Linked DNA regions of Homo sapiens: region 2 is linked to region 1. The links come from fine-mapping of genetic effects on gene expression. A gene starts in region 1. The other region holds a variant in brackets. All regions are shown on one strand. Distances are from middle to middle.

Evidence for each region. PIP is the estimated chance that this variant, and not a neighbour inherited with it, causes the effect.
Region 2: its variant is the best candidate, but not a certain one, in a credible set for the expression of FAM110A in T cells (TOPMed, PIP 0.90).

What each region holds. Positions count from the first base shown.
Region 1 is chr20:831,661-837,034 of GRCh38, forward strand. FAM110A (family with sequence similarity 110 member A) reads left to right here and starts at 2,055. Exons shown (of 2, transcript NM_001042353.3): 1 at 2,055-2,291. RefSeq lists a silencer at 2,306-2,455 and an enhancer at 3,972-4,071.
Region 2 is chr20:853,050-858,423 of GRCh38, forward strand. No RefSeq gene overlaps it. Among named protein-coding and RNA genes, the nearest start is that of FAM110A, 22 kb to the left of the region's middle. RefSeq lists an enhancer at 3,101-4,087. The variant C/T (reference allele first, on the strand shown) is at 3,008.

The DNA of each region.
Region 1 (5,374 bases):
ACAATCATTATTAGCTATTGATATATTATTAGCTCCCTCCCCTGCCCACCCAGGGGTTTACGCAGTAAGTTCTCAATTATTGGCAATCCAAACAAAGAATAAAAGACACCAGCTGGAATGAAACAGAGAAGCTGGTTCCAAATTGAGCAATTCAGACTGACTGCTATAAAATTTCCTCACCTTAAAGGCCCTTAGAGTTAATTCATTCTAATCCCCCTAAAAATATACTTTTTTGACATGTTCAAGTATTGGAAATTTGGAAAATTCACAAAAACACAAAGAAGAAATTAACTGCTGTGATTATAGATGATTATACACATATACATATGTATTTAATACATATTTATGCTGTACATAGTGTTTTGAAGCATACTGTACTTCAAAAAAATTTGGGAGGGGTGCATTGGCTTATGCCTGTAATCCTAGAAATTCAGGAGGCCAAAGCAGGAGGATCACTTGAGGCCAGGAGTTCTAGACTGGCCTGGGGCAACATAGCGAGACCCGTAGCTTGACATGGTGATGCGGGCCTGTAGTCTTAGTTACTCTGGAGGCTGAGGTGTGAGGATTGCTTCAACCTAGGTTACAGTGAGCTATGATTGCACCACTGCACTCCACCCTGGGCAACAGAGCTAGACCCTGTCTCTAAAAAACATAAATAAACCAATGTTTAATACTTAGCATTTCCCCCTATCTTTAAATATCTTCTAGCTACTTCACTTTTATTTTTATCTTTTTGAGATGATCTCTTGCCCAGGTTGGGGTGCAGTGGCATGATCTCAGCTTACTGCATCCCCCACATCCCAGGTTCAATCTATTCTCCTGCCTCAGCCTCCTGAGTAGCTGGGATTACAGGCATGTGGCACCACGCCTGGCTAATTTTTGTATTTTTAGTAGAGACGAGGTTTCACCACGTTGGCCAGGCTGGTCTTGAACTCCTGACTTCAGGTGATCTGGTCGCCTCAGCCTCCCAAAGTGCTGGGATTACAGGTGTGAGCCACTGCTCCTGGTAGCTACTTCACTTTTAATGGCTGCATAATATTCCTCATCAGAAAGTGGGAAAAATTAGGCTAGGTGGCGTGGCTCATGCCTGTAATCCTAGTACTTTGGGAGGCTGAGTTGGTAGAATTGCTAGAGCTCAGGAGTTTAAGATCAGTCTGGGCAACATGGCAAAACCCCATCCCTACAAAAAATACAGAAAATACCGGGTGTGGTGGTGCACACCTGTAGTCCCAGCTACTTGGGAGGCTGAGGTGGGAAGATTGCTTGACCCCAGGAGATTGAGGCTGCTGTGAGCTGAGATCCTGCCACTGCACTCCAGCCTGGGCGACAGAGTGAGACTCCATCTCAAAAAAAAAAAAAAAAAAAGAAAAGAAAAAGATAAAGAAATAAATAAAGTGTTAATAATTAAAAGTACTTTTAGAGGGTTATGTCATAAGCCTTGACAAGACTTGTTCTGTAAAGCTACCCGGCATGCAAAAAGCTCAATTAAGTTAGCTCCTCCACAGGATGGAATTATATAACCAATCCCTTTCAAGAGGCATTGAAGTTGTTTCCATTATTTTGCTATGATGAATAAGGCTGAGCAATATTAATCTTTGCTCATATCTTTGGTCATTTCCTTTGTAAATTTCGGGACTGCTGGGTATGCACATTTTAAAATTAACTCACTCATCATCATGCAGTTAGGAGAACAGAGAAAGGAAGGGGCTTGCACCGGGTCACATAGGGAGTTAGCGTCAAAGTCAGGACTAGGAACCAGCCAGGGCCCTCTAACTGGAGCTCTTCCAGCTGGGGTCCTAGAGGAAGTCCCAGCTGGCCGCGGGAGGGAGGAGGAGGAAGGGAAAGAACCAGGCGCCGGGGCTGAAGCGGCGGCAGGAAGAAGGTGGGGCCGGCTGGGAGGAGCGGGCGGAGCTGCTGAGCAGCGCCTCTCCTTCGGGCGGGGGAAGCTAAGCGGTCGCCTGGCAACCCTGGCGGCGCGCCGTTCGAACGGAAGCGAGGAACCAATCAGGAAGTCCGGGGCGAACCATTCTGGTGTGAAGGGGGGCGGCGTGCTCACTTCCCCTTCCACGGCGCCCCAGGGACTTTCCCTGCGGTGGGGGCCTTCGACAGTGAGGGCCACCCGCTCAGCTCGACCGCGGAGGGCAGCTCCAAAGGGGACCCCAAAGGTGCCCACGCGGGGCTGGGGCCTCCTGGGCGTCGTTGGGAGCGGCCACTACCGGCCCGGGTCCGAGCTGTCAGCCTCTCCAAAGCCTGCGCGAGAGGAGCCGGGACACGCCTAGCGCGGGCTCCAGGTGAGGGCGCGGGTGGGTCCGGGTGCGACCCCGGGTCTGGGGGCCCCGTTCCCCGAGCGTCTGCTGTCTGCTTTCTCCCCGCGTCGTACCTGCGTGTCATTTCACAGATGAGGACTCTGAGGCTCAGAGAGGCAAGTGTCCCGGCCCGGCGAGCTCTGGCGGAGAATCCAGTTCAAGTCTTTCTGCCCCACCTCGCAGCCCCCTAGTCTAGTCACATCTGGACTTGCCTTGAGAGGCCCAGACGGGCAACTGGTAGTCATTTTCCCAGCGTTTTATCGGCAGGGACCTGTAGACCCCTGGCTGGATCACATATCCCCGCGCCCCACACTGTCCTCGGGATACCCCCTTTGGGCGTCTGTCTTTCCTTCTCCGCAGTCCGGGGTTGGACTCGGCTCATTTGGCGCCTTTCTGTCTACGGGGACAGAGGACCACTCTTTGGGGATCGGACGGGACTGACATTTCTGGGCTGGATGCAGGGGCAGCAGATTCTCCAGCCCCCAGAGCCGCTGCTGGCCTCTTGGGAATCATCCCCAGTTTGGGGAAGGGAATAGAGCCAGTCCCTAAACCAAAGCCACTAGTCACCAGAGACTTTGGAATTGGGAGTGGGGCCGGAATCCCCCCAGGTGGAGCAGCTGACCTAGGCCAGACCCTGCTGTGTCTCCTGGGGACACCCCCTGCCCCCTAGGTTGCTATTGTCAGTCTCCTTTTGTAGGTGGGGAAACGGAGGTTCTAAGAAGTTAAGCCCCTTTTCGAAGTCACAGTCAGACAATGCAGTGGTTAGCTCCTAGTCCCTCTGGCTTCAATCTTAGAATCCTTGACACACAGAATCATGCATTTTGAGAGTCTTCAATCTCTTCATAAGGGAGTTACATATCCTCTCTCCTCTGGAGCCTGCCCCTGGCTTTGGGGGACAGGATCTCCGAGGACTCAGAAAGAAAACAAGGCTTTCTTTTATTCTTTCAACAAATATTATTTATTGACTTCATAAGCCCTGCTCTGGTTCTTGCATGTTTTGGTTTTTTTACTTATTAGCAAATGTATCATCTTCTCCCACTGTGATGCAAGGCAGGGGCTGAGGCAATTGAGCCAGTGCAAAATTTAGGGATGCCCAAAACCTCAGTAATCAAGACTGAAACTAACGTTCATGGACCATTTGTGTGTTCTGCAGGCAGGAGGTTAACTCACACAGCCTTCATGAAGTGCAGTCCTCCCATCTCTCTCTCTCTCTCTCTCTCTCTCTCTCTCTCTCTATATATATATATACACACACACATATATACACACACACATATATGTATATATATGTATGTGTGTATATATGTATATATGTGTATATATATGCATATTTATAAATCATGAAACCACTGCCCTGTCCCTGAGTTGCTCTGTGACATTGAGTAAGTTTCTTCAGTCTCTGGGCTGAGCTAAGAAGTCATGATGGTGCACTCAGGCCTGGGCAGAGGGCAGTCTAGGATAGGAAGTGGGCTTGGCTGTGGATCTGCCTCCCCCTCCCCTTTCTAATCCTGCGTGCCAGGCCCTTCCCCAAGACCTTGCATGTGTTATCTTCCATTCTGTCCTCACTGCAAAATCCTTCATCCCCATTTTGCAACCTCAAGTGCAGACCTAGGCCTAGAAGATCAACTTGGTATCAGTGGGCCTAGATGTCCACATCCACACCCATTCCACAGCCTACTCCCTTCTCCCTTCCTAATGTTAGTGCAAGGCCACCCTGAGCAAGGCTGACTCCTGGGCAGGCCAGGGCACCAGCGTCTGGGAGGCCTCCAGAAATAGCTCAGGGCCTGGTGTGGCTCTGGAGGTGGCCCAGCTGGGTGTCCCTGACCTGGACAGCTGGGCTGAAATTGAGCTGGGGCTGCCCTGCTGGCTGGCCCCTTGCCACTGCCTGGAGCCTTCCCAATCTCCTCTGGGGCAGGCAAGGGCCTCCCCAAATCTAGGCCAGGCTTCTGCTGAAGGGAAAGAAAGAAGCAGGTGGGAGGAAGGGGGCGGGTTGGGTGTAGAATGTCATGAAAATTATAACCTTTGGAAACCACACCTCCCACCCCCTCACCAAAGAATAAAAATCACTAACACCTCTTGAGCATTTACTATGTTCTAAGTACTTTACAAGTATGAACTCATTTAATTCCCTCAACTCTGTGATATAAGGTAATTACTGCTGTTCTTATTTCCATCTTGCAGAGGGGAAACTGAGCACAAGAGAGGTTTAATAATTTGCATAAGATAACCTAGAGGTGGAGTTTGAACCCAGAGAGTCTGGCTCTAAATTTTACATTTTTTGGGGGGGGGGGTGGGGTGGGGCAGTGAATGAATTAAAATGTATATAAAATAAAATTTACCATTGTAACCACTTTTAAGTATACAGTTCAGTGGCATTAAGTACATTCCCCATTGCCTCTCCCCCCAGTGCCTGGCAATCACCATTCTACTTTCTGTTTGAGTGAATTTGACTACTTTGGGTACCTCTAGGTATTATAAATGGAATCATAACAGTATTTGTCTTGTTGTGTCTGGCTTATTTCACTTAGCATAATGCCTTTAAGTTTCACCCATGTTGTTGTATGTGTTAGAATTTTCTTTTTTATGGCGGAATAATCTATTCTAATATTCTATGTATATGCCACATTCTGTTTATCCATTCATTCCTTGATGGACACTTGGATTGCTTTTGGCTGTTGTGACTAATGCTGCTTTGAGCATGAATGTACAAATATCTGTTTGAGTTCCTGTTTTTAATTGTTTTGGGTATACACTCAGAAGTGGAATTGCTGGGTGATCCTATGGCAATTCTGTTTAATTTTTTGAGGAACTACTTTACTGTGTTTCACAGTGACTGCACCATTTTATGTGTCCATCAGCAGTGCACAAAGTGCTAATTTCTCAACATCTTCACCAACACTTGTTATTTTCTGTTTGTATTTTTTTTTTGGTAATGGCCATCTTCAGGGGTGTGATGTGGTGTCTCATTGTGGTTTTAATTTACATTTCCCTAATGACTAATGGTGTTGAGCATCTTTTCCTGTGCCTGTTGGCCATTTGTTATCTTTGGAGAAATGTCTGTTCAAGTG
Region 2 (5,374 bases), 21 kb after region 1:
AATAAAAAAAACTCTGGGCTGCAGTCCTGGCTCTTCCGTCCTTGCTGTCTGACCTTAGTCAAGTTGTCTCATTCTCTGAGCTTCCGTAAATTGGATAAAATTGAATGAAACGAGATGATCTTTATAAAGTGCTTGTGCTACTCATTTGTTTACAAACGCAGCACATATTTATTGAGGCCTCCTATATACCAACTACTGGTCCCACCCCGAGGATATTGCAGTGAACAAAATGGACCAAAACACCTGCTCTTGTGAAGCTCACAGCCTAGGTTGTAGACAGATGTTAATTGATCATCCTAATAATTGTATGACCATTGAGAGTAGATTCCGGAAGGAGAGATTGCTGACCTGGCCAGGTTGATCTGAGAAGCCAAAGATATTTAAGCTGAGATGTGAAGGGTAGGTAGGAGACAACGAGGAGAAGAAAGATAGGAGTGGAAAATGATTCTAGATGGAGGGCATGTGCAAAGGCCCTGTGGTGGGAGGAGTAGATTCCAGGAACACAGAGAAGGTGGGTGGGGCTGGGCCTGAAGCACCAGGGCCAGATGGTGTGGGGCTGCTGGAGCCTTTGAACAATGTGAGGGTCTGTCTTGCCAGGCAGCCTAAAATAAAACCGAAAGGCCTAACTGCTCCACAAGGCCCTCATGATCGGGGACCTTGTTACTCCTCCAGTCTCCCCTTTACCTACTCTGCTGCAGCCATGCTGCCTCCTTCCTGTTCCAGGAACACCCTGGACACATTCCCACCTCAGGGCCTTTGCACTTGCCATTGCCTTTACTAGTATCGACCCTACCCAGATATTCTGATGACTCATTCTGTCACTTCATTTCCATCTCTGCCTCTTCAAAGGGGCCTTCCCTACCAACCCACCACAACCCCCCTGCCCCTCCAGCTAAGCAGTCAGCATCCAGCAGTCTCTACTTCCCTGGCCTGGTTTATTTCTCTTCCTAGCACATATCACCTCCTGGCTTATATTAACCAGAGGCCACATTGTCTGTTTCTCTTCTGGATCTCTCACCAGAGTGCAGCTCAGCAGGCAGGGACTTGGCCTTGCTCTAGGCTGTGTCCTCAGCCTCAGGGGAAGAGTAGGCATTCCATAAACATTTGTGAATAAAGAAATGAGTGAAAATGAGTGAGTGAATGCTGGAAAGAACTAGCTCCTGGAAATTAGGAGGTCTGGGTTCAAGTTCTAGCTGGGCGATCCTTTCTGTTCCTTGGTTTCTCCAGTTGAGCTGTGAGGCATTTGTGGTCTCTAGGGAGGTTCTAGGACAGGAAAGGAGTACTCCAGGCTGTGGAGGGGGCCTATGTAGGAAGAAGGGAGCTGGGGCCTTCCCTTTGGCCTTCTGGCGTTTGAAAATAGCCTAGCTCAGCCCCTAGCTTGGGCCCCTACCCTCCCTGGGGTGCCAAGCTGGAGCCAGGGGGCTCTGTCTGGAGCCTGCCAGCCTGGTGCCGGGCTGGGATCAAGGCCACCTGACAGCTGGGCCAGGCAGTCCTGGAAGGTTCTTAAGGGCAAACAGGGCATGCTGGATGTCCCAGACCTCCCTCCCCACCTATTGTCCCTCCTCCCTCAGTGTCCACCGGCAGGATAAATCCCTTCATCCTCTACAGGCCTGCAGCCCTTGCAGCTTGCAAATCTTTTTCTTGGTTTGTTTCTAATTTCACCCCTGCTCAGTAGCTACTTTACTGGTGAGGACACTGAGGCTCAGAGATGACAACTGCCTCACTGAGGTTACGTTGCAGTTATGATTCAGGCCCAAGTCTTGCCCAGCCCTGTCCTGTCACCGCGTGCACGTGTGTGTGTTTGTGTTTGTGTGTGTGTGTGTGTGTGTGTGTGGTCTCACTATCAAACAGTGCCCTCCCTTAACCACCAGTGCCCCGGGTCTCTGATAAGATGTGATGACTATGAGCACCTGGAGCCAGGTGGCCTGGGTTCAAATCCCACCTTTGCTACTTCTATACTGTGTGGATTGCTGGGCCACCCCCACCTCAGTGTCTGCTAATAGGACAAATCCCTTAATCCTGGGCACTGGGGCACTATCAGGACTAGCATTGTATACATTGCACAGGTTTTAAAAAATGTAATCTGTAGGCTGGGCACAGTGGCTTACACCTGTAATCCCAGCATTTTGGGAGGCCCAGGTGGGTGGATCATGAGGTCAGGAGCTCAAGACCAGCCTGGCCAACATGGTGAAACCCCGTCACTACTAAAAATCCAAAAATTCACCAGGCATGGTGGCGGGCACCTGTAGTCCCAGCTACTCGGGAGGCTGAGGCAGGAGAATCGCTTGAGCCCAGAAGCTGAGGTTGCACTGAGCCGAGATTGTGCCACTGCTCTCCAGCCTGGGCAATAGAGCAAGACTCCGTCTCAAAAAAAAGGTAATTTGTTGTCAATATTTACACATCTAAACCATTGGAAGAATAATGTATATATAAACTAGCTAATGAACACCTACCAAGCCCCAAGCACCAACTGTATGTCCAGTACAGAGCCAGCTGCTCCAGGGGAGTTCGTTCCTGGGAGGGGGCATCATGATGAAGTGGGCGTGGTTCCCATTTCCTCCAGCGTAGTCTCAGAAGCGGGAAGCCATGTGACTGAGGTTACAGCCAGGGAGGGCAGAGGCCCCCGGCACTCACCCCTCTGGGGTCCAAGCCCCGCTGGCATGTGTTGTGTCCCTGGGTAGGTGTGTCACTCCCTGTCTGTGTCTCCAGTGTTCCTGTTGGCAAATCAGGGGTGGGACGGAGGTAAATGGAGAGGCCCTGCCCAGTCTGCTGTAATCCAGGATCTCGGACTTAGTGGGGCCAAAGCTTCCAAGTTCTCCTGATTAGTGAGGCTGCAAAAAATGTTTGGCATGTTATTCTCTCACCGTTTAAATGTGGGCAAGTAACAACTTACATGTAAAATTACCCCCATATACCAAGCATTTAAGTTATTTATTATATCATTGCTTACAATAGCAAATAATTGGAAATTATTTGAGAAATGGCTAAAGAAACTCAGGCCCAGGTA[C/T]GCAAGGGAATCCTAGGCAGCCCTCAAAAGATGTCCTGCAAACACCTGATGTGGAATCACAAGATACACAACACAGGTCAGTGAACAAAACAAGTTGTGGCATGATACCCACAGTGTGCTGCTGCTTGTGGAAGCAGGAACACATGTCCATGTACTCTTGTACTGGCACAGAACCCTGGAGAATTATCCTGGGAACCCTGCATGCTGGCTGCCCCTGGGGAGGGGAACCCGAGGGTTGGGCTCAAGGGTGGGAGGCAAGACTCACTACTTTGCACACCTTTTGAATTTTGAATCATGTGAATGTGTTATCTGTGCAGAAAAAATAAAAATACATTTAAAGTAAAGTGAAAGTAGACAAGAAACCTGAAACAGAGACGGACAAGCAAGCCTGCAGGCCCAGCCAGCTACCGCCCCCGGGCAACCTCATGCCACACTGTGGGCTCTGCCCAGCTTGGTTTTGTGGCTCCACCCTCTACGGTCATATTTGGGTTTCCACACACACAGCACCCAAAGGAAATCCCAGCTAACGCACATCAGGTTCTGGGCTGGGCCACCCGCCAAGGTGGTTGGTGGGCATGACACCGCCCCGGGAATGGCGTCGTCCAAATGCCTGAGCAATGACACGGCCTCAGATGGAATGATGCCACTGCCCACAGTCTCACAGGCCCTCCCATCTCGCCTTTGTTCTGCAGCCTCCAGGTGGGTGTATGGACACTCCAAAACAGCCATCCCTGTCAATGAATCAGCCTGCAGGGACTGAATTCATTCCTTCATTCATCAATATCCATTGAGCACCTACTGTGTGCCAAACACTCTTCTAGGAACTGAAGATGCAACAGAAAACAAAACAGATAAAAATCCCTGCCCTCGAGGAGCTGACATTCCAGAGGGGACACAGACAATACTTGCCAGAGTGAAAATGCTAAGGAGAAAAATGAAGCAGGGAAGGATGGGGAACTAGAGATTTTTTTTCCTTTTTTTATTGAGGTTGAATTGATAAACAATAAAATTGGCCCATTTTAGGTGTACAGTTGGATGCATTTTGACAGTTGTATGGCACTACAGACAAGTGCTAGAATTCCTGTATCATCCCACCATGTTCCTTCACGCCCCCCACAGTCAGCCCCTGACTCCCACCCGCTCCCACCCGAAGAAACTACAGATCAGTTTTCTTTCACTGTAGATCAGCTTTGTCTTTCCCAGAGTTCATGCAAATGGAATCTGGCTTCTCTCAGTCAGCATCATGGACTTGGTTGAGATTCGCCCGTGTTGCTGAGTGTATCTGTAGCTTGTTCCTTTTTACTGACGAGTAGTATTCCACAGTGTGGATGCACTGTATTTTGTTTATTCATCCAACTTGTTGACGGACATACAGGTTGTTCCCATTTCTTGGCTATTACAAATAAAGCTACTATAAACATTTGTGAACAACTCTTTGTGTGGATGCATATTTTCATTTCTCTTGGGTAACTACCACGGAGTGGAATTGCTGGACCTCGTGGTAAGGGTAGCTTTATTAGAAGCAGATCTCATGCTTTTAAACAGGATGGTCAGATAAGGTGTCACCGGCTCGGTGATATTTCAGGAGAGGCCAGAAGGAGGTAAGGGGTGTCTGCAGGGAAGAGTGTTCTGGGCTGAGGAAACAGAGTCAGTATGTGCCTGGAGTGTTTGAGGAACAGCATGGAGGCCATCAAGGAGGGAGTGAAGGACGTGAGGGGAGAGGGCTAGGAGGTGTGCTCCATGTGGAATGAGGCTAGATGGTATAGGGTCACATACATCATGGTGAGGACATTGGTATTTTTTTCTTTTGACATGGAGTCTCGCTCTGTCACCCAGGCTGGAGTGCAGTGACACAATCTCGGCTCACTGCAACCTCCGCCTCCTGCATTAAAGTAATTCCCCGGCTTAGCCTCCCAAGTAGCTGGGACTACAGGCACGTGCCCCCACGCCCATTTTATATTTTTGTAGAGATGGGGTTTTGCCATGTTGTCCAGGCTGGTCTCAAATGCCTGACGTCAGGTGATCCGCCCACCTCAGCCTCCTGAAGTGTTGGGATTACAGGTGAGAGCCACTGCACCTGGCTGAGGACATTGGTTTTTCCTCTGAGAACCCGTGGGAGGAATCTGAGCAGAGGTGGGACAGGATCAGACTTGCATTTTAACACCTTCCCCCATCTCCAGCTACCAAGTGGAGAATGGGCTGCAGGGCTGCAGGGAGGAGGCTACTGTAATAGTCCTGGCAGGAGATGAAGGAGTTGGACTGGGGTGGAGGCGGTGGGGGCTGAGGGGTGTGGGATTCTGGATCTTTCTGGATCTACCCCGAATGTGGAGCCAACAGGGGATGTATTGGACGTGGGATGTGGGGAAA